Regions from separate parts of the Homo sapiens genome. Here regions 1 and 3 are each linked to region 2. Evidence: fine-mapped expression QTL. A gene starts in region 2. Each other region holds a variant in brackets. All regions are shown on one strand. Distances are from middle to middle. Region 1 overlaps PGS1 (phosphatidylglycerophosphate synthase 1). Region 2 holds the start of PGS1 (phosphatidylglycerophosphate synthase 1). Region 3 overlaps DNAH17 (dynein axonemal heavy chain 17).

Evidence for each region. PIP is the estimated chance that this variant, and not a neighbour inherited with it, causes the effect.
Region 1: its variant is fine-mapped to the expression of PGS1 in whole blood (TOPMed, PIP above 0.99).
Region 3: its variant is fine-mapped to the expression of PGS1 in gastroesophageal junction (GTEx, PIP above 0.99).

Annotation. Positions count from the first base shown.
Region 1 is chr17:78,420,198-78,426,586 of GRCh38, forward strand. PGS1 (phosphatidylglycerophosphate synthase 1) reads left to right here. Exons shown (of 10, transcript NM_024419.5): 10 at 3,864-4,462. DNAH17 (dynein axonemal heavy chain 17) reads right to left here. Exons shown (of 81, transcript NM_173628.4): 79 at 6,260-6,389; 80 at 5,149-5,374; 81 at 3,500-3,956. The coding sequence ends at 3,709. Among named protein-coding and RNA genes, the nearest start is that of PGS1, 45 kb to the left of the region's middle. RefSeq lists enhancers at 1-79, 2,353-2,932, 5,726-6,226, 6,227-6,389. The variant C/A (reference allele first, on the strand shown) is at 4,110.
Region 2 is chr17:78,375,465-78,381,870 of GRCh38, forward strand. It overlaps PGS1 (phosphatidylglycerophosphate synthase 1), which reads left to right and starts at 3,185. Exons shown (of 10, transcript NM_024419.5): 1 at 3,185-3,344. The coding sequence starts at 3,202. RefSeq lists an enhancer at 3,074-4,035 and a silencer at 3,231-3,470.
Region 3 is chr17:78,448,728-78,453,727 of GRCh38, forward strand. It overlaps DNAH17 (dynein axonemal heavy chain 17), which reads right to left. Exons shown (of 81, transcript NM_173628.4): 65 at 4,616-4,738; 66 at 2,742-2,946; 67 at 1,955-2,119; 68 at 1,527-1,667; 69 at 687-857. Among named protein-coding and RNA genes, the nearest start is that of DNAH17-AS1, 34 kb to the right of the region's middle. RefSeq lists a silencer at 1,380-1,601 and an enhancer at 1,731-2,309. The variant G/A (reference allele first, on the strand shown) is at 2,339.

The DNA of each region.
Region 1 (6,389 bases), 45 kb after region 2:
TGTGCTGCGGTTACAGAGCTGCGCCCTTCTAGACTCTGGAAGTTGAGTAACAGGACCTGCTCTGCCCACCCAGGAGGGGCCTGCCGCTTCACCAGAGGCACCAGTGGGGTCCCACAGTCACCTGAGGTACCCCTGGACTGTCTTGACGCCTAGAGGTCCGGGCAGGGGGTGGCTGCCATTAAAGGTGGGGTCTTTGCTGAGTGACCTTTTGTGTCCTGGATCCCTCAGGGCCTGGACTGCACTCCGGGTGGGGTCAGGCTCCCGAGGCCCCTGCTCTCTGGTTCTGGATGTTGTGGGTAGTTCTGTTGCTTTGGATGGCTGGGCCTTTGGATGGTGGCTTGTGGGGAAGGGACGGTGAGGAGTCAAAGATGAGCCAGGACCCATGTGGCCGGCACATGCGCTAGTGCCGGCATCTCATGTGTGCAGCGTGGGCTCCCTTAGTGCCTGGCACCTTAGTGCTCTGCTAAGTCTCATTGTTTAAAAATGTGTAGTTTATCTGCAGCTTTTCCTAGTTATTTTAATTACTTTTCATTTTATTTGAATAGTGTGTGCAAATGTAGAGAGTAAAACAATACTGCGGCCATTTCCTGCCCTCCCTTCCCCCAGGCAGCCACTCTTGGCTTGTTTCTTCTGATGTGCACACGTGTCCGTATTTCTAAATAACGTGCATATCCTGCTGTCTTCCCCCAAAATGTGTACTTAACCAAAACAGCACCAGTGTCACTCCTGAAACAAAAATTACCAAGAATGTCTTAGTATCATCAAATACCTAAATGGTGTTCACAATTCCACTTGCCTTAAAATTAATTTTTTCGATTATTTGACTTGAAGTCCAATTAAGGACTACACCTTGTGATTGTTTTTTCCCTAGCAATTTATTTTTTGAAGAATGAACTTTATTTTTATTGGATCTACTTAAAACATTTTTGTGTCACCTAGTAGCAGGGGATTTTGAATACATGTCATGTGTGTTTATAAAGCCAGCTCTCCATATCCCCCAGTGTCTCCAGGAGCTGCTTTTGTGACCTCACTGCCTGATCTCTTTATCATCTTCAGGTGCTTGACCCTTGCACAGAGAGAAGCTTCCTGGGCTACAGGGCATGGCAGCCTGTCCTTTCGGGGAGTGAGATTAGATTTAGTCCCTGCACTTTGCCTCTCTAGAAGCAGCTTCTCGCCTTTCCCTCCCGAGGGCTGGCAGGAGTCACTGTCACCCTTCATGGGGTCTGAAAGGTTGCATAGGCTCACCTGGTCTTAGACAAGGACAGTTGCAGCTTCCGCACCAGGCAGACCTGCAGTTTGAGTGGCTGGGGATAGGTGGAGCGGCGGCCTGGCCACAGTGCCCTGGACAGCAGCACATCACATCAGTTAACACTGTTTGCCTTCCAACTAGTTATTACGGTGTCCTGTGGGACAATTAGACTGGAGGAGCCAAAGGAATGTGCAGGGGCACTGGGTTTCTGTTTGGAGAGAGGCTCTCGGTAAACAGAGTTCGCATTCCTCCAGATTCTGTGGGACCAGAGTAAATATCATTATGCCACAGCCAGGCTTAAGCAATCTATCTGCAGTGCCGTTCCCGCAGCGCACACTGCTCCCTCTGTCTCTGCTGATGACCTTCGAGGCTGTCCTAGGCAGGTTCTCCCTGAGGAGCTCCCCACACCAAGCCTCCCTAACTCTGCAAAGCAGCCGGAGCAACAGAGAGCAGCGGGCGGCGGGCGGCGGCCGCCGCAGTCCTCCCGGCTTTCTAGGTGCGCGGGGCTGTCGTGTTCCAGTCCCTGTGTTCCCCGTCGCTGGAGTGCAGCTTAAGTGCGAATCATTTCTTGGAAAGTTTAGAGATAATTTTGTCAACTACCCACAATATGTATGTGTGGACTAGATTACTTTCTTATTTCAGGATCTAAAGGCAAAATGGAAAAACGTCACATTTTGTGGTTATTACCAGGGACTGAAGTGAGTTGCCCGGTGGCCCCTGGTGGCTTTAGCTCCCCTGGTCACCTGAAGGGCTGCAGTGACCCCTCCTGGCCAGCAGAGGTATTGGCCCAGCCAGGCTGGGGGAGGCTGAAACTGCTTCCCTTCTCTGCAGCCACAAAGGGCTGGATTCCTTGGGCGCCAGGAGGGGAGGATTTTTCTTTTCCCTCCGATAGCCCTACTGGGCGCTAAGATTGTTGTGAATCATTACCCTCAGAATTTGGACTTTCTAGATGCTTCTTAACCCATGATTTAGGTGAGTAAACTTGGAAAAATGTTTTTGCAAAACTTGATGATCAAGCTGAACGTAGAACGATATTCCTAATGGGTGTGTTTGCCTTTTTTCCCCCTTTTGAGACAGGGTCTCACTCTGTCACCCAGGCTGGAGTGAGTGGCATGATCATGCCTCGCTGCGTACTTGACCTCATGGGCTCAAGCGACCCTCCTGCCTCAGCCTCCTGAGTAGCTGGGACCACAGGCACATACAACATTCCCAGCTAATTTTTTGTATTTTTGATTGATAGAGATGGTTTTGCCACGTTGCCCAGGCTGGTCTTAAACTCCTGGGCTCAAGTAAGATTGCCGTCCTGGGATTAGAGGCGTGAGCTGCTGCAGCGGCCTGCTTTTCTTTGAAGCCTGAGAAATGTTGAGGGCCGGGCACAGTGGTTGACACCTGTAATCCTGGCGCTTTGGGAGGCCGAGGTTGGTGAATCACCTGAGGTTAGAAGTTTGAGACCAGCCTGGCCAACATGGTGAAACCCCATCTCTACTAAAAATAAAAAAATTAGCTGCGTGTGGTGGTGGGTGCCTGTAACCCCAGCTACTTGGGAGGTTGAGGCAGGAGAATCGCTTGAGCCCAGGAGGTGGAGGTTGCAACGTGAGCCGAGATTGCGTCATTGCACTCCAGCCTGGGCGACAAGAGTGAAACTCTCACTCTCCCTCGAAAAAAAAAAAAAATGTTGATCCTGTCTTGGTCCCCCTGGGATCCGTCTTTTCTGACGTTTGCCGCTGTCTCCCCTCATCCCCCAGGTTGCTAGTTAATTCTCTCCCCTCGTGCCTGCACCCTGCTGCCCTAGCTAGCCTGGCCACCTCACTGCCGTGTCCTGCATCAGCCCAGCCACAGAGTCCTACAGGTCCGGGGCTTGCTTGTGGGAACGGCTTGTTCTTCTAGACTCTGGGGGCGGGGGCTTGGGTGTGTTTCCTTACTTGTAAAAGGTCCTGTTGTTTTTGGGAGCAGGGAGTAATGGCGGATGAGACGCTGTGTGGAGGCGGCAGCTCCTGGTATGGGGTAACGCCCTGTCCCCTCATTGGCAGGTGGTTTGCATGAAGCATCAGGCCAGAGGGTGTGAGTGCCAAGCCCTCACCCCACATGCTGCTCCTGTTAAAAGCAAACTCCACTGACCCCCCCGGGAAGTCAGGATTTGGGATTTACTTCCTGGAATGCTTGCCTCTGGCTGCTGGGAATTGGGGCCTTTCCCCAAAGCCTGAACCAGGCCTCACAGTGGCCATCAGGCACAGAATGGATGGGCACAGCTGAGTGGCTCCACTGGCTTTAATCTGCCCCACCTCTTCCACACCAACCTCCACCCTCTGGTTCCGATGTGCTTGGTTACAAAGCACCTGATTATTTAAGAGAACGAAAAACCACCACCAGTTCCTGTAAAGAATAAGTCACAGGTGCACAGGTGAAGGGCTGAGTTGTGGTCCAGCCCCAGGGAGTGTGGGCTGTGAGGCAGGAGCGAGCTAAACCTGTAGGAGCAGCGCCACGGCTGCCAGGATCCACTTCGCTGCCTTCTCTTTGGTCTTCAAGTTAAAGGTCCAGACATAGGTGGGGCCGCGGATGCGTGTTTTGTACACGGGACACTCATAGATGTTCTTGGTCTCCATGCGGTCCACAGGAATGGCCTTGATGAAGATGACAGGCATGGCCGGGGTCAGCTCTTTCAGCCGCGCTTCAGCGATGACTCCAGTCTGGGTGTCCCAGCGAGCCCCTGCAGGGACAGTATGGCTGAGGGTCAGGTGTGCTGCCAGTAAGTGAGGGAGGGGCTGGCAGGAAGGGTGGGGTCCTCACACTCCCCGCCCTCTGCAGAGCTGGGCTCTACCCCAAAAGGCTTCAGGCCAGCTGCCACGGCTGGAAGCAGAGG[C/A]CTTCGTAGGTGATGGCCTGCATGTTGTAACTACCCCGTCCCGCTGGGCTCAAGGAACAGCTCAGCTAAAGCCCTCGGGTTCCATCCGTTTAAATCTGTGGCATTTTCAGAGCCTCATCTGTCAGCCTTAATGTCAGTGGCAGGAAGTCATAACTCCAGCTAAAAATTACAGAGTAAAGTTCCCTGATTCTTAATGTGTAATGTCTGCCCTATGTGTACATACACAATATAATTATACATCTGTGCATATAAATATTGCCTTTAACCAGACTGCTATTATTTCTACTCGCCCTATTTAATGGTGTTTTTATTTCCTGTCTGAAATCTCAAAATAAACAAACATGGAGAGCTTATCTTTGGTTGTGTGGGAAATGGGGTGCCTGAGCCGTTGCTGGCCCAACCCTGCCACCCCACAGGTAATGGGGTGACGTCAGCTGTTGAAGGGGACAGGTATGTGGTGGTGGCATTGCTGCTCAACTCAGAGGCGGGCTGAGAAGATGGCCGGCCTCGGTGTCCTGGCTGACCTCTTCTGTGTAGCAGGACAGGGGTGATGTGGGGGCGGACTTCTAACAGGTGCCCCAGCCTCTTTTCCCTTGAACCCTGTGTTCCAGGAGTGGCAGCAGCTGGGGAGTGGGTGAGACTGGGCCAGCCAGCATGACCTGGAGTCTCAGTGCAGCCACAAAACGCACTTCTGCCCTGGGCTGACTGCTCCGTGGCAGGGAAAGCCTGGGCTTTTCAGCGCTTTTCATCACGTCGGAGCTGCTCTCTCACAAGCTCTGCTGTTTTCATTAAAGCAGAGGCCAGGTGACTGGGGTGTTTTTGGTCTCCTCCAGACCCTGCACATTCCCTGAATCCTCTCAACCCTCTCTAGGGTCAGCGTGGCTCTGACCTGCAGGCTGATGCCCCCTGAGAGCACCTCTCTCCTGCCTGTCCCCACAGCTCTTGAACAGCCTGTCTTTGCCAAGAGCTAGTTTTATCTTGTCTTGGCAAGTAGCACTGGCTCTGGAAGCTTCTGCAGACAGACAAGAGCCCTCCTTACCTTCCATGAAGAGTCCGTACACGTAGGAGCCCTCTCGCGGAGGAGCGGTCATGTCCTCTCGGTTTTTCTTGGTCACCTCGACAGACAGACACATCTTGTCCAGGGGCCACTCGTTCTTCCTGGCCATGGACTGCATGATGGCCGTGAGGAACGACTGGGGGTTGAAGAAGCCGGCCAGCCACACGGTGGTGGGCAGGGCAAAGTCTGTCGTCCAGGCCTCGAGTTCCTGCAAGGACACACGAGCCGCTAGGAGGAGAGGACATAGAATGACATGGGAACGACCGGGCCTTGGCCGTTCTGAGCAGGGGTCACGCCAGAACCTTCCACGGGCCACTCAGCGAGCTAGAAGTGCTGGACAGAGTAGGGGCCATGGAGCCCAGCCACCTACCATGACGCAACTTTGGTGTCTGCTTTTTTTTTTTTTTTTTTTTTTTTTTTGAGATGAAGTATCGCTCTGTCACCCAGGCTGGAGTGCAGTGGTGCAATCTTGGCTCAACGCAACCTCCGCCTCCCGGGTTCAAGCAATTCTCCTGCCTCAGCTTCCAGAGTAGCTGGGATTACAGGTGCAGGCCACCATGCCCAGCTTATTTTTGTATTTTTAGAGATGGGGTTTCGCCATGTTGGCCAGGCTGGTCTCGAACTCCTGGCTTCAAGTGATCTGCCTGCCTTGGTCTCCCAAAGTGCTGGGATTACAGGTGTGAACCACCGTGTCCAGCTGCTGTTTGCTCCATTTTAAACAAGGGAACAGGTAGAGAAGGGTCAGGAAGAAAATGGCTTCCTGTTTGTGGATAATTTAGGAGCCCAAAGAGGCTCTTGCCTTCATTGCCTCGCTCCTTATAGAGGACGGCTTACCCTTTGAGGGTCGCTTGAGGAGGAGCTGATGGAAGCTGCTCTGCGGCCTGGCTTGTTTTCCTCCTTTGGGAGGAAATGGCTGCACTGTCAGGGTGTGGGAGGGGCATGGGCTAGGCCCTTCTGGCCCTGATCTGACAGAGGACAGGCCCCCAGGAGCCTCCTGGCCATGCTCCTGCAGGCTCTAGGGTGTGGGGTGTGCCGAGCTCTGGGCACTCGGTCCCCGAGTCTTAGGAAGCCTCTCAGAGAAAACGGCACTTACCCTGATGCGGAGCAGCAGGTCTGCGTACCAGGCCGCCAGGCCCATCATGGAGGGGTAGGCCCGGGCCACCCACGTATCAGGCACGGTGTCATAGAAGAGAGCCGTGGACAGATCTTCCACGTCGGTCGTG
Region 2 (6,406 bases):
GCTGTCATCCTGTAAATGGAATCATTTAAAAATTGCACAATCTCTGAAAACCATTATTTAACATTTTTGCAACCTCAAAATGTATGTGTCCCCAGCAAAGTCGTGGTTGCCTCACTCTGGTGATAGCTCTGTCTGTTTTAAACTAGCCATGAAGGCCAGAGGCTCTCGATGTGTGGTTTCAGAAGGGACTGGGTCATTCCTTGATGTTATCCTTAGGGTAAATACTTATTAGTGTGACTTACCATGCTATCAATATTGCTGTCTGTTGCTAGCATTTCTTTAAGGTTGGGAATTCCCAGTGAGCCTGTACCATGGCTGTTTGTCTCAGTACCTCGCACAGCAAAGCACCCATGCAGAAAAGCTGCCAGCTCCTTCTAGGATGATAACCAGGCTCCCATAGCCCATGTGGCGCTCACCGCTGAGCATGACGGTGTAGCCATACAGCAAGTGTTTACTCTGCAACAACCGTGGGCCAGGAACAGTGCAAAAGTGGAACCATGCAATGGATGGCCTCATTCTAGTTACTGGAAGTTAGGAAATTTGATGATTCACCATTTCTAACTTGGAAGGGTTGAATCAAATTCCATGTAGTATTAGTAAAGCTATCTAAACGCAAAAGAAAACTTTAAGCCAATCTGAAATACTTGTTGATTGTCAACAATTTGGAAACTCCTTAATGGCACCAAATAACCAACATTAACATTTGGGGGTATTTACTTTCAGTCTTTCTGTGTACATACACGCATTTCCTCTTTCTTCCTCTCCTTTAATGAAATGAGATGGTCTCTACGCTACTCCTTGGTAATTTGGCTTTTACACTTAATGTCATTAAATATTCTTCCAGAACATGTTATTTTTATGATTGTGTGGTCTTCCAACATACCGATGTATCATTATTTAACCAACCCCCCTACCCTGAAGATTTGCTTCCACACTTCCGATATCATGAACAAGGCTGAGATGAACATTCTTGTGGGAATGTGTAGTTGATTTCCCTGCATAATCTGTGGAAGTGGACTTTGGAGTGTTTTTTTCAGTGTGTCCATATCTTTTTTTTTTGAGACTGAGTTTCGCTCTTGTTGCCCAGGCTGGAGTGCAATGGCGCGATCTCGACTCACTGCAACCTCCGCCTCCCGGGTTCAAGCGATTCTCCTGCCTCAGCCTTCCTGAGTAGCTAGGATTACAGGCATGTGCCACCATGCCCGTCTAATTTTGTATTTTTAGTAGAGACAGGGTTTCTCCATGTTGGTGAGGCTGGTCTCGAACTCCCGACCTCAGATGATCCGCCCGCCTCGGCCTCCCAAAGTGCTGGGATTACAGGTGTGAGCCACTGCGCCCGGCCCACGTGTCCATATCATTTTAACCTCACAACACGGCAGACTATGATTATGTCCTACAGCTTTTCCAGTTTCCAGGTCCCAGCCTATGTGGGTCAGCCAGGGAGCTGCATATTACAGATCAGAGATCACCTCTCCTGCCTTTCAGAATGCCACAAAGTTTTCCATTTTAAAATTAGCTGCAAAAAGTGTTCTTGGGCCGGGCGCGGTGGCTCACGCCTGTAATCCCAGCACTTTGGAAGGCCGAGTTGGGTGGATCACTTGAGGTCAGGAGTTTGAGACCAGCCTGGCCAACACGGTGAAACCCTGTCTCTACTAAAAATACAAAAATTAGCCAGGCGTGGTGGCGCACGCCTGTAATCCCAGCTATTCCGGAGGCTGAGACAGGAAAATCTCTTGATCCCAGGAGGCAGAGGTTGCAGTGAGCCAAGATTGCGCCATTGCACTCCAGCCTGGGTGACAAGAGTGAAACCCTGCCTCAAAAAAAAAAAAAAAAAAAAAGTGTTCTTGGTGTATGAGGATGTGCTCCGTCAGCTTTTTGGGCATAGAACTGTGTGTTGCCAGGGGCCAGTGATATCTGTGTACTTGGGCATATCAGGAGGGTGGAAGACTGTTCATCTCACACAGATTTGCTTAGGCTGTTCTGTGCCATGGAGCTGCAGCCTCTGGGGCTAACAGGGTGAAAAATGATTCCTCTCTCAGTCTGGTGGGGATTTTCCGTGGTTCTGTGCACCTTAGTGAGTCAGCGTTAACCAGGTTACAAGACTTTGTACAAGAACAGACTTTGTTCAAGTTTAACACCTTAGGGGTGTTGTACAAGTCTAAAGAACACCCTATCAATTAGAGCCTCAAACAGTAATTCCCTCACTTATCAGTGAGAAGTCCTTTTTTTTTTTTTTTTTTTTTTTTTTTGACGGAGTTTTGCTCTTGTTGCCCAGGCTGGAGTACAGTGGTTCGATCTTGGCTCACTGCAACCTCCACCTCCTGGGTTCAAGCGATTATCCTGCCTCAGCCTCCTGAGTAGTTTGGGATTACAGGCATGGGCCACTGCGCCCAGCTAATTTTTTGCATTTTTAGTAGAGACGGGGTTTCATCAGGTTGGCCAGGCTGGTCTCGAACTCCTGACTTCAGGTGATCCACCCGCCTCTGCCTCCCAGAGTGCAGGGATTACAGGCGTGAGCCACTGCGCCGGCCGAGGAGTCAATCTTGACAGCCAGTGGTCAGGCTCGGTGGCTCATGTCTGTAATGGCAACACTTTGGGAGGCTGAGGCTGGATGATCTCTTGAGCCCAGGAGCTCGAGACCGGCCTGGGCAACGTAGTGAGACCCCCATCTCGACAAAAAAGTAAAGAATTAGCCGGGCATGGTGGCACACGCACTTTGGTGGTCCCAGCACTTTGGGAGTGGTCCCAGCACTTTGAGAGGATCCCCTGAGGCCGGGAGGTCGAGGCTGCAATGCGCCAAGATCGCGCCACTGCACTCCAGCCTGGGACACAGACCGAGACTCTGTCTCAAAACAAACAAACAAAAGCTTTTTTGACAGCTGGTGAGTTGGAGCCAAGCGTGACGGTGCTAGAGCCCCTGCGCCGCATCCTTTCCTCCGCGACCTGTGACGAGTGACTGCAGGAATGCAGGCCACCTGGCGCCCTTACGGATTTAACGGGCCGGCTTCCGACCCCCTCCTGCGGCGCGACCACTGTTCCTCGCCTGTGTCCCCCAGAGGGGAAACTGAGGCTTGGGGGCGGTGCAGCGCCGCCCTCCCCGAGCCAGGGGTTCCGCGCCTGCGCGCCTGAGCCGTGTCCGCGCTCGCCTTTGTCAATAAAGTTCGCGCCCGCCGGGAGCGGAAGCGGAAGCGGCGAGTCTCCATGGCGGTGGCGGCGGCAGCTGCGGCGGGACCCGTGTTCTGGAGGCGACTGCTGGGCCTCCTGCCTGGCCGCCCAGGGCTGGCCGCGCTCCTGGGACGCCTGTCCGACCGCCTCGGCAGGAACCGGGACCGCCAGCGCAGGAGGTGAGAGGGGCGGCCGGGATGAGAGTGCAGCCCTCGCGGCTGCAGCCCGGCCCCCCGGCGCTCAAACTCCCGGCCCCAGCGTCCTGGGCATCCGCAGCGAGTCCCTCCCCGGTTTCCGGGCCCATTTCTGCCTCCCGGGGCTCGGCGCCTGACCTATGTGCTTCTTCACTGGCCTTCTTGAGGGAGGGTGGGCGGCTCGTGCTCCATTATCGGCCGGGTCCAGCCGGCGGGCCTCCTGCGCAGCCCGGCCAGTCCTTGCTCCCCGTCTACACCGTGCTTGTTGGCGAGCCCCGGCCACCGTGCACTTACACGTTAAAAGAGGGACTGTGTGTGCGTTCAGGGAGCTTCGGTCAAGCTCCAGAGGCTGTTTATATCATGGTTTCGGCCCCAGGATGTGAGTGTCGGAGAGTTCAGAGGGGTCTTTTCCTTAGGTAAGCCTGGCTGTGAGTGAATCACCGTTGCTGGGATTTTGTGTATAGAGCGTTTCTCACATCCTGCCAGAAAAAGCTGTGAAGCAATCCTTAGTAACACTCAGGCATGGGAAGAGGAGCCACTCGAAACACTTTTTACACATTTCAAAGGGCCTGTGTTCTGGAAAAGTACTGAAGTTATGTAAATGATGAAGTAGGCTTTGGAGCAATTTGTTCAGGCAGTGGTCTTTTAAAATAAACATTTGCCAAGAACATGCTGACCTGAGGCTTGCTAATATTAAAAAAAAGGGGATAAATAATTCTTGGCCGGGTGTGGTGGCTCACGCCTGTAATTCCAGCACTTTGGGAGGCCGAGGCAGGTGGATCACCTGAGGTCAGGAGTTTAAGACCAGCCTGACCAACATGGTGAAACCGTCTCTACTAAAAATACAAAATTAGCTGGGCATGGTGGTGCATGGCTGTAATCCCAGCTACTTGGGAGGCTGACCCTGAGGCAGGAGAATCGCTTGAACCCAGGAGGTGGAGTTTGCAGTGAGCCAAGATTGCCTCATTGCACTCCAGCCTAGGCAACAAGAGCAAAACTCTGTTTCAAAAAAAAAAAATTCTCTTGTGTGCAAATAGTTTTCTTTTCTTTTCTTTTTTTTTTGAGACGGAGTTTCACTCGTTGCCCAGACTGGAGTGCAATGGCGCAATCTTGGCTCACCTCAATCTCCACCTTCCAGGTTCAAGCGATTCTCCTGCCTCAGCCTCCCGAGTAGCTGGGATTACAGACATAAGCCACCACACCCGGCTAATTTTGTATTTTTAGTAGAGACAGGGTTTTTCCATGTTGGTCAGGCTGGTCTCTAACTCCCAGCCTCAGTTGATCCACCTGCCTCGGCCTCCCAAAGTGCTGGGATTACAGGCGTGAGCCACCGTGCCCGGCTGCAAATAGGTTTCTTAATTGAGTCTTACACTTGATCTTTAAAAAAAAAAATCTTAGAACTGCTTCCTTTAGTTGAGGTTGCATTGTGTTAGATTTTCTATCTGTACGTGTACTCCTCGGGTGAGATTTGACCTCCTGGGGTCAGACATCTAGTACAGAGATCTGGGGTCCAGTCATGTGTACTGATTCTAGGTACAGAAAAGAGCTTGCTTCATGGTGATCTATGGTGGAAGATTTTCATCGAAAACTCAAGTTTGATTTAGGGGAATTTTTAGGTGATAGAATCAGGGCAGGATGGCGCTCTTGGAAACCTGCTAGGTTTCACGTTGGTGAACCCAGCAGGACTGGGGCTGTAAAAGAAATGGCCTCTGCATTTTTTGCATTTTCATTTTTTCAGTGTTTAACAAAAGACCTGCTCATCTCTGGGTGACGAAGTCAGATGACTTCTACGTCCTGGCATCAAACCACTGAGATTTGGTTTACAGTTTCAAAAAAATGTTCTACCCTTGAAGACAAGATTTAGGTGACTTTGTCATTTCCCTCTATATGTTTAAACTATATGAAAAACACTTCATTATAAATCATTGTTCAACATTGGAATTGATTACTAAAGGATGTTGGGGCAGTTGACACAAATATTTTAAAAAAGAAATCTCTCATGAGTGTGCTTTTTTTCTTTTTCTTTTTCTTTTTTTTTTTGAGACAGAGTCTTGTTCTGTCACTCAGGCTGGAGTGCAGTGGTCTGATCTCGGCTCAGTGCAACCTCTACCTCGTGGGTTCAAGTGATTCTCCTGCCTCAGCCTCCAGAGTAGCTGGGTCTACAGACACATGCCACCACGTCCGGCTAATTTTTGTATCTTTAGTAGAGACAGGGTTTCACCATGTTGGCCAGGCTGGCCTCGATCTCCTGACCTTGTAACCTGCCCACCTCGGCCTCCCACAGTGCTGGGATTACAGGTGTGAGCCACTGCGCCCAGCCACTTTTTTGTTTTTTGGTGGTGGGAGGGGCAGTGTGGCAGTGGAGATAGTCTAAATTGACTTTCTAATCTCTTTTTTTTGTAAATTGTGTGAGTGGATGCAGTTTGTGTGCCTTCATCCTTCATTAAGCTGAGAGAGATGATTGTTTCTCTGGGACAACAGTTCAACCAGCAACTCAGTTTCTTGGGCATTAAGACAGAAGTTTTTGCTTTGTAATCCTCGGAAATAATGCCTATGGTAGGACTGAGGATAAATGCTTTGACCGGTATTGAGTGGTAGTGTAGGTTTCTGAGCCTTTCTTTGCCTTATTCGGTTTGCAGTTCTTTTCTGATTCGTTGTGGCCTTGGTGTTCGAGTTATTCATGTTTGTTGTGGCTGCTTACCCTTTATTAGCTGCTGACTTTGCTTTCTTCTCCATTATTCAGTTGCACCTCCCAATTTCTCATTCCCCGAATGATGTGGTTTCTTGTAACTCGCTGATCATTGATTCATTGATAATAGTTCTGTGCAGTCATGAGCTTGAATTATTTTAGGTTTTAGCTTGTCGATCTGAGTCAGCTGTTGGAGGGCCAGTGAACCCTCGTGAGGGGACGTTCCTTTTACTGCCGCGGTTTCCTTTCAGGCATAGAGACAGCCAGAGAGACAGAGAACTCTACTTAAAATTACTTCTGTTAATGATTTAGAAGCACTGTCATTTCCTCTTAAGCTAGCATCTGACTCATTATCATT
Region 3 (5,000 bases), 73 kb after region 2:
TTAATGTCATGATCAAGGGAGTGGGTTTGTTACACAAGGAGTTTGGCCCGTTTTGTGCTCTCTCTCGCCCTCTAGCCTTCCACCATGGGATGACACAGCAAGAAGGCCCTTGCCAGATGCCAGCACTTTCATATGGAACTTCCCAGACCCCAGGACCATGAGAAATAAATTTCTATTGTTTATAGATTACTCAGCCTTGGGTATTCTGTTATAGCCGCACAAAACAAATTAAGACAGGCTGTTTAATCAATTTCAGAGAATGCAGATCTTTAAATATTTTAGCAGGGCTGTATAAACAGGAGGAATATTTGTTTATTCATACACTTATTTCTTAAGAAACATCAGTCACCCCACAGTGGGCTAAGCACTAATGCAGGACTATTTACTCAGCACAACTTACATGTAAAATGAATTTCCTTGTGAAATTCTCCTTAAAACACCACCCCTTCACTAGCTCCCATTGGAATACTGTGCCAGCTTCCCAAATATCAACTAGGAGAGCCCCAGGCCTGTTCCACGTCAGGCATCTCAGACTTTATAATCACCTGGGTATATTGCTAAAATGCGGGTTTGAAATCACCAGGTTTGGGTGGGGGCCCAACAATCTGCCTTTCCACAAAGCTCCCAGGGGTCAGTGACACCGCTGGTCCACGGACCACACTAGGAACAGTGAGGCTAGACATTACCTGAAACGTAACTTGTGCCAGGAAAATGAGTTTGTCCCTCTCGAAGAGTCCCCGGGCCGTGTACATGTAGACGGAGTAGGTGATCTCGTCCGTCAGGTTGATCACCCGCTGCTTCACCTCGTTGGCAGGGGTGGTCCTCTGGATGGCTTTCTCAAACACCACGTTGAAGGCCTGGGGATCCGCCACCGAGAGCCATGGAGGCGTGCAGAGATGGAGCCCTTCACCACTCCCCGCCACCACTCCCTGCCACCTGTGGTGGCCTCCAGTTTGTTTTGTTTCTTTGAGACAGAGTCTTGCTCTGTCGCCCAGGCTGGAGTGCAGTGGCGTGATCTTGGCTCACTGCACCCTCTGCAGTGAGGGAGGTTGCAGTGTTCAAGCGATTCTCCTGCCTCAGCCTCCCAAGGCGCACACCACCACACCTGGCTAATTTTTTTTTATTTTTAGTACAGACAGGGTTTCACCATGTTGGTCAGGCTGGTCTTGAACTCCTGACCTCAGGTGATCCACCCGCCTCGGCCCCCCATAGTGCTGAGATGACAGGCATGAGCCACCATGCCAGGCCATCCAGTTTGTTTTGATTGGGTTGTGAGTGCCTGGAGGCACCAGGGGAAGAGCAGGGAGGAGGGAGCAGCTCATACCCTCTCCTGGGGAGAATGGGTGTAGGACTGATGGGGGCCCCTGGCTCCCCCTCTTCCAGCTCCATCTGCAGGCTGGACCAGGTCTGCCCTCTGAGGGTGGCCCTGGCACTGCCCGATGGCTGTGTGGGCAACAGGCCTGGCTGTGGAGCCCAGATGCAGCCCCACCTTGAGGGAGGCACCCAGCCCCAGCTGCAGGGCGCACCTTGAGGGAGAACTGGTAGACGGGGTTGATTTTGTTGAGATCGTTCAGTATGAAGTAGAGCAGAGATGCCCTCTCCGCAGCCGGGCGGTAGTTCTCTCTCGCTTCGTTGATTTTAACTTCTGTGATTTTTGCCTCCACCACCTCGACACAAACAAAAGGGGTGTGAATGACACAGCAGATGGGCAGTGCCATGAGCAGGTGGGCTCATTCCCAGCCACCAGCCTCGCTCCCTGGGAAGCCACCCAAGGGCTCTCAGCAGCAGCTGGGTGCAGGATGGGAGCCCAGACCCCTTCTCCTGCCCTGGGCCCACTCGGGCACGTATGACCGAAGCTGCTTTTCTCCTTTCTCATGGTAGGGAGGCGCCGATCGCCCGTGGCCCAGCCTCCCAAGCCCTGGCTGCCAGGGCACGTCACCGAGGCAGCTCTGACCTTCTCCTCGATCTCGCTGGCTGTGTGCTTGGTGGTCTCCAGATTCTCCACCAAGGCCGTGTCTCCCAGAAAGTTCCCCGACGCAGCCGACAGACGGGCCAGGAGCGAATCTTCCAGCTCTTTCAGAACAATCTTAAATTCGTTTTGAGACTTGGTGAGGTTTGCCTGCAAGGGGAGGTGCAGGAGTCACTGCATTGCCTGGCTCTGTCCACCGGGCACCCGGGCCTCCCTCAGGTGGCCATGTAGCTGAGCCAAGGCCCAGGCTTTGAGCGGGAGGAACGAGCTCAGGTCCTGGAAGGGGCTGCAGAAGCAGAGCCCCTGGAACCTCAGAGAGGCCCTGGCCCTGCTCCCAGCCTTGAGGCTTCCTGTCACGGAGACTGTAGG[G/A]GGCAGAACGGGGACAGGCGGGCCTGGGCCTCCTGAGCCCATGCAAGTGGCTATAACAGCCAGAAATGTGGCAGGTGCAAGGGCTGGCAGCCAGGCCATTCTTGCAGGGCAGCGCTTTGGAGCTTAGAGCCCCCGAGGACCGCTGTGACTCATGTTCTTTAAGCAAAGAGGTCATGTGACTTAGAATTAAATTTGGGAGCAGGAAGAGGGGACAGCTGGGGAAGGAAATGAGCCATCCTGTCGTATGAGAAGCTGTGATGCCGTGGGACACACTGAGGCACCTTCAGAGAGAAGCAACGACACACACTGGACTGGCAGCCCTGGTCGGGGACCCTCACAGTGACCTGGCCCCCTCTGTGTGGGACGGCACCTCCTCCCGTGTGACCAAACTTCAGGCCATTACCTTCAGCTGTTCCAGATCTGGGCGCTCTTTGGCCACCACAGCGGCCAAGAGTTGGTCCTCGAGTCCATCCCTGGTGACCAGGAAGTTGATGAGGGTGCACTGAGCCTGCATCTCTGGCTTGTAGTGTGGGTTGAAGTACTTGGTGTGTAGGATCAGGCGGAACTTGGGGTGGTACTCCACCTCCTTGTCACCGATCTTAATGTACCTGGCGGTTGGTGGAGGAAAGGGTTAGTGGGCCTCCCAGTGACCAGGGGAGAGGAACACAAGTACAGACCACCTTTCACCCCAGCCCCAGGCCAGGCCGCCACCTTGAACCCTCCCTTCTGGTCCCTGGAAGAGCACTGCACCTCTCCTTGTCTGTTCCTCCTCCCTGGCCTGTGACGTGGGCCCTTCTGGGAGATGCACCTGCTCTTTCCTTGGGTGATCAGGCTCATCTTTGCAGCAGGGTTTACACCCCTCTGGCGATACTCTGTCCTCCCCTGGGAGCCCTGACCGAAACCTTCTGCTTGGCCTCCACCCAGACTCATTTACAACATTCGTCCATTCTGGAAGCTCCCAGGACTGCAACCCTGGGTCTGCTCATCCACTGTGGGGGGCGCTTCTCTCCGGCTCTACACCCTGCTGTCCCCTCTTTGTAGCTGGGCTCACTTTGAGGGGCCTCTGGCTAGCTTCACCCCTCAGCACTCACACCAGGCCCCTCCCAGAGTCTAGGACCTCTGCATATTGATTTGCCACCTCCTGGGTTCTGGGTTTCTGCATGCATCTCTGCATTTAAAGGTGGCTCCTGTCAGCTCTGACATTTACATTTTTAAAGTAGATTTAATTTTTTAAAATTGTAAAATGAATAATGCAAGCTCCACGCATCAGCTGATGAGTGGACAAACACAATGCGCCCGGCCACACGTGGAAAATGATTCTGCCATCAAGAGGAATGAAGGACTGACACATGCGACCACGTGCATGACCCCAAAAAACATGCTAAGTAAAGGCCGGGCGCGGTGGCTCCCGCCTGTAATCCCAGCACTTGGGGAGGCCGAGGCAGGTGGATCACCTGAGGTCAGGAGTTCGAGATCATCCTGGCCAACATGGGGAAACCCCGTCTCTACTAAAAATACAAAAATTAGCTGGGCACGTTGGTGTGTTCCTGTAATCCCAGCTACTTGGGAGGCTGAGGCAGGAGAATCACTTGAACCCAGGAGGCAGAGGCTGCAGTGAGCAGAGATCGTACCACTGGACTCCAGCCTGGACGACAGAGCGAGACTCCATCTCAAAAAACAAACAAAAAATGCTGAGTAAAAAGAGCCAGACACAAAAAGACACATGTTGCTTGATTCTCTTCAGAGGAAATGTCCAGAATAGGCAAATCCACAGACACAGAGAGCAGAGTAGTGGATGTTAGGGCTCAGGAGGGAGGGGAATGAAGAAGAGTGGGTACAGGGCTTCCTTTCGGGGTGGTGAAAATGTGCAACTGGACAGATGTGTTTGTACAACATCGTGAGTGTACCAAATGCTCAATTGTGTATTTTAATGTGGTTAATTTTACGTTATGTGAATTTTTAAAGGTAATGCAGTCCCAAGATTTGCAAAATGCCTAAGAACAGAATGAAGACAGACATCACCTTCAAGCCTCCCCATCTGGAGGCCATCACTGATAAAATGTTGGCGGAGATATTCCTAATTGGGAAGTGGCCCCTCTTTCCAGTCTTTCCTCAGGAGCTGGGGGTTCCTTCCCACCAGCAGGCACTTTGTCAAAGCCCTTGCTGCTTACCAGGGAAGCAAAGGAAATTCCGGGCGTTTTCTCTACATGCACACGCCCAGGCCTCGGGCCTGAAGATGTTTACCTGGCTCAAGCCACGGAGGCGGAAACAACTCACTTTCCCTTTTTAATCGTGTTCCTGCCCAGTAGAGGGTCCAGCACGGGGTCCACGGTTTCGCCGATGTTCTCAATGAGCAAGGTGTCCCCTTCCGAGATGGCCTGCTCGATGACATCCAGGTAGCTGCGGGCACAACACGGAAGCTGGTTCATGGCAGAGGGCCTCGTGATGGAACGGTGCGCACGCTCCGACCAGCAGCCCCTGCCCTCTGAGCGAGACAGCGCCAAGCGAGGGGTGACCTAGGAGCCCACAACTTGTTCCCAACAGCTCGCCCTTTCCTGAAAGGAGCCGAGGGGCTTCTTTGTAAACTGCCCCCGTGCTCTTATGGGAGTGGAGATGAAAATGGAAACAGTTTTGCTTTTTGAGACAGGGTCTCATTCTCTGG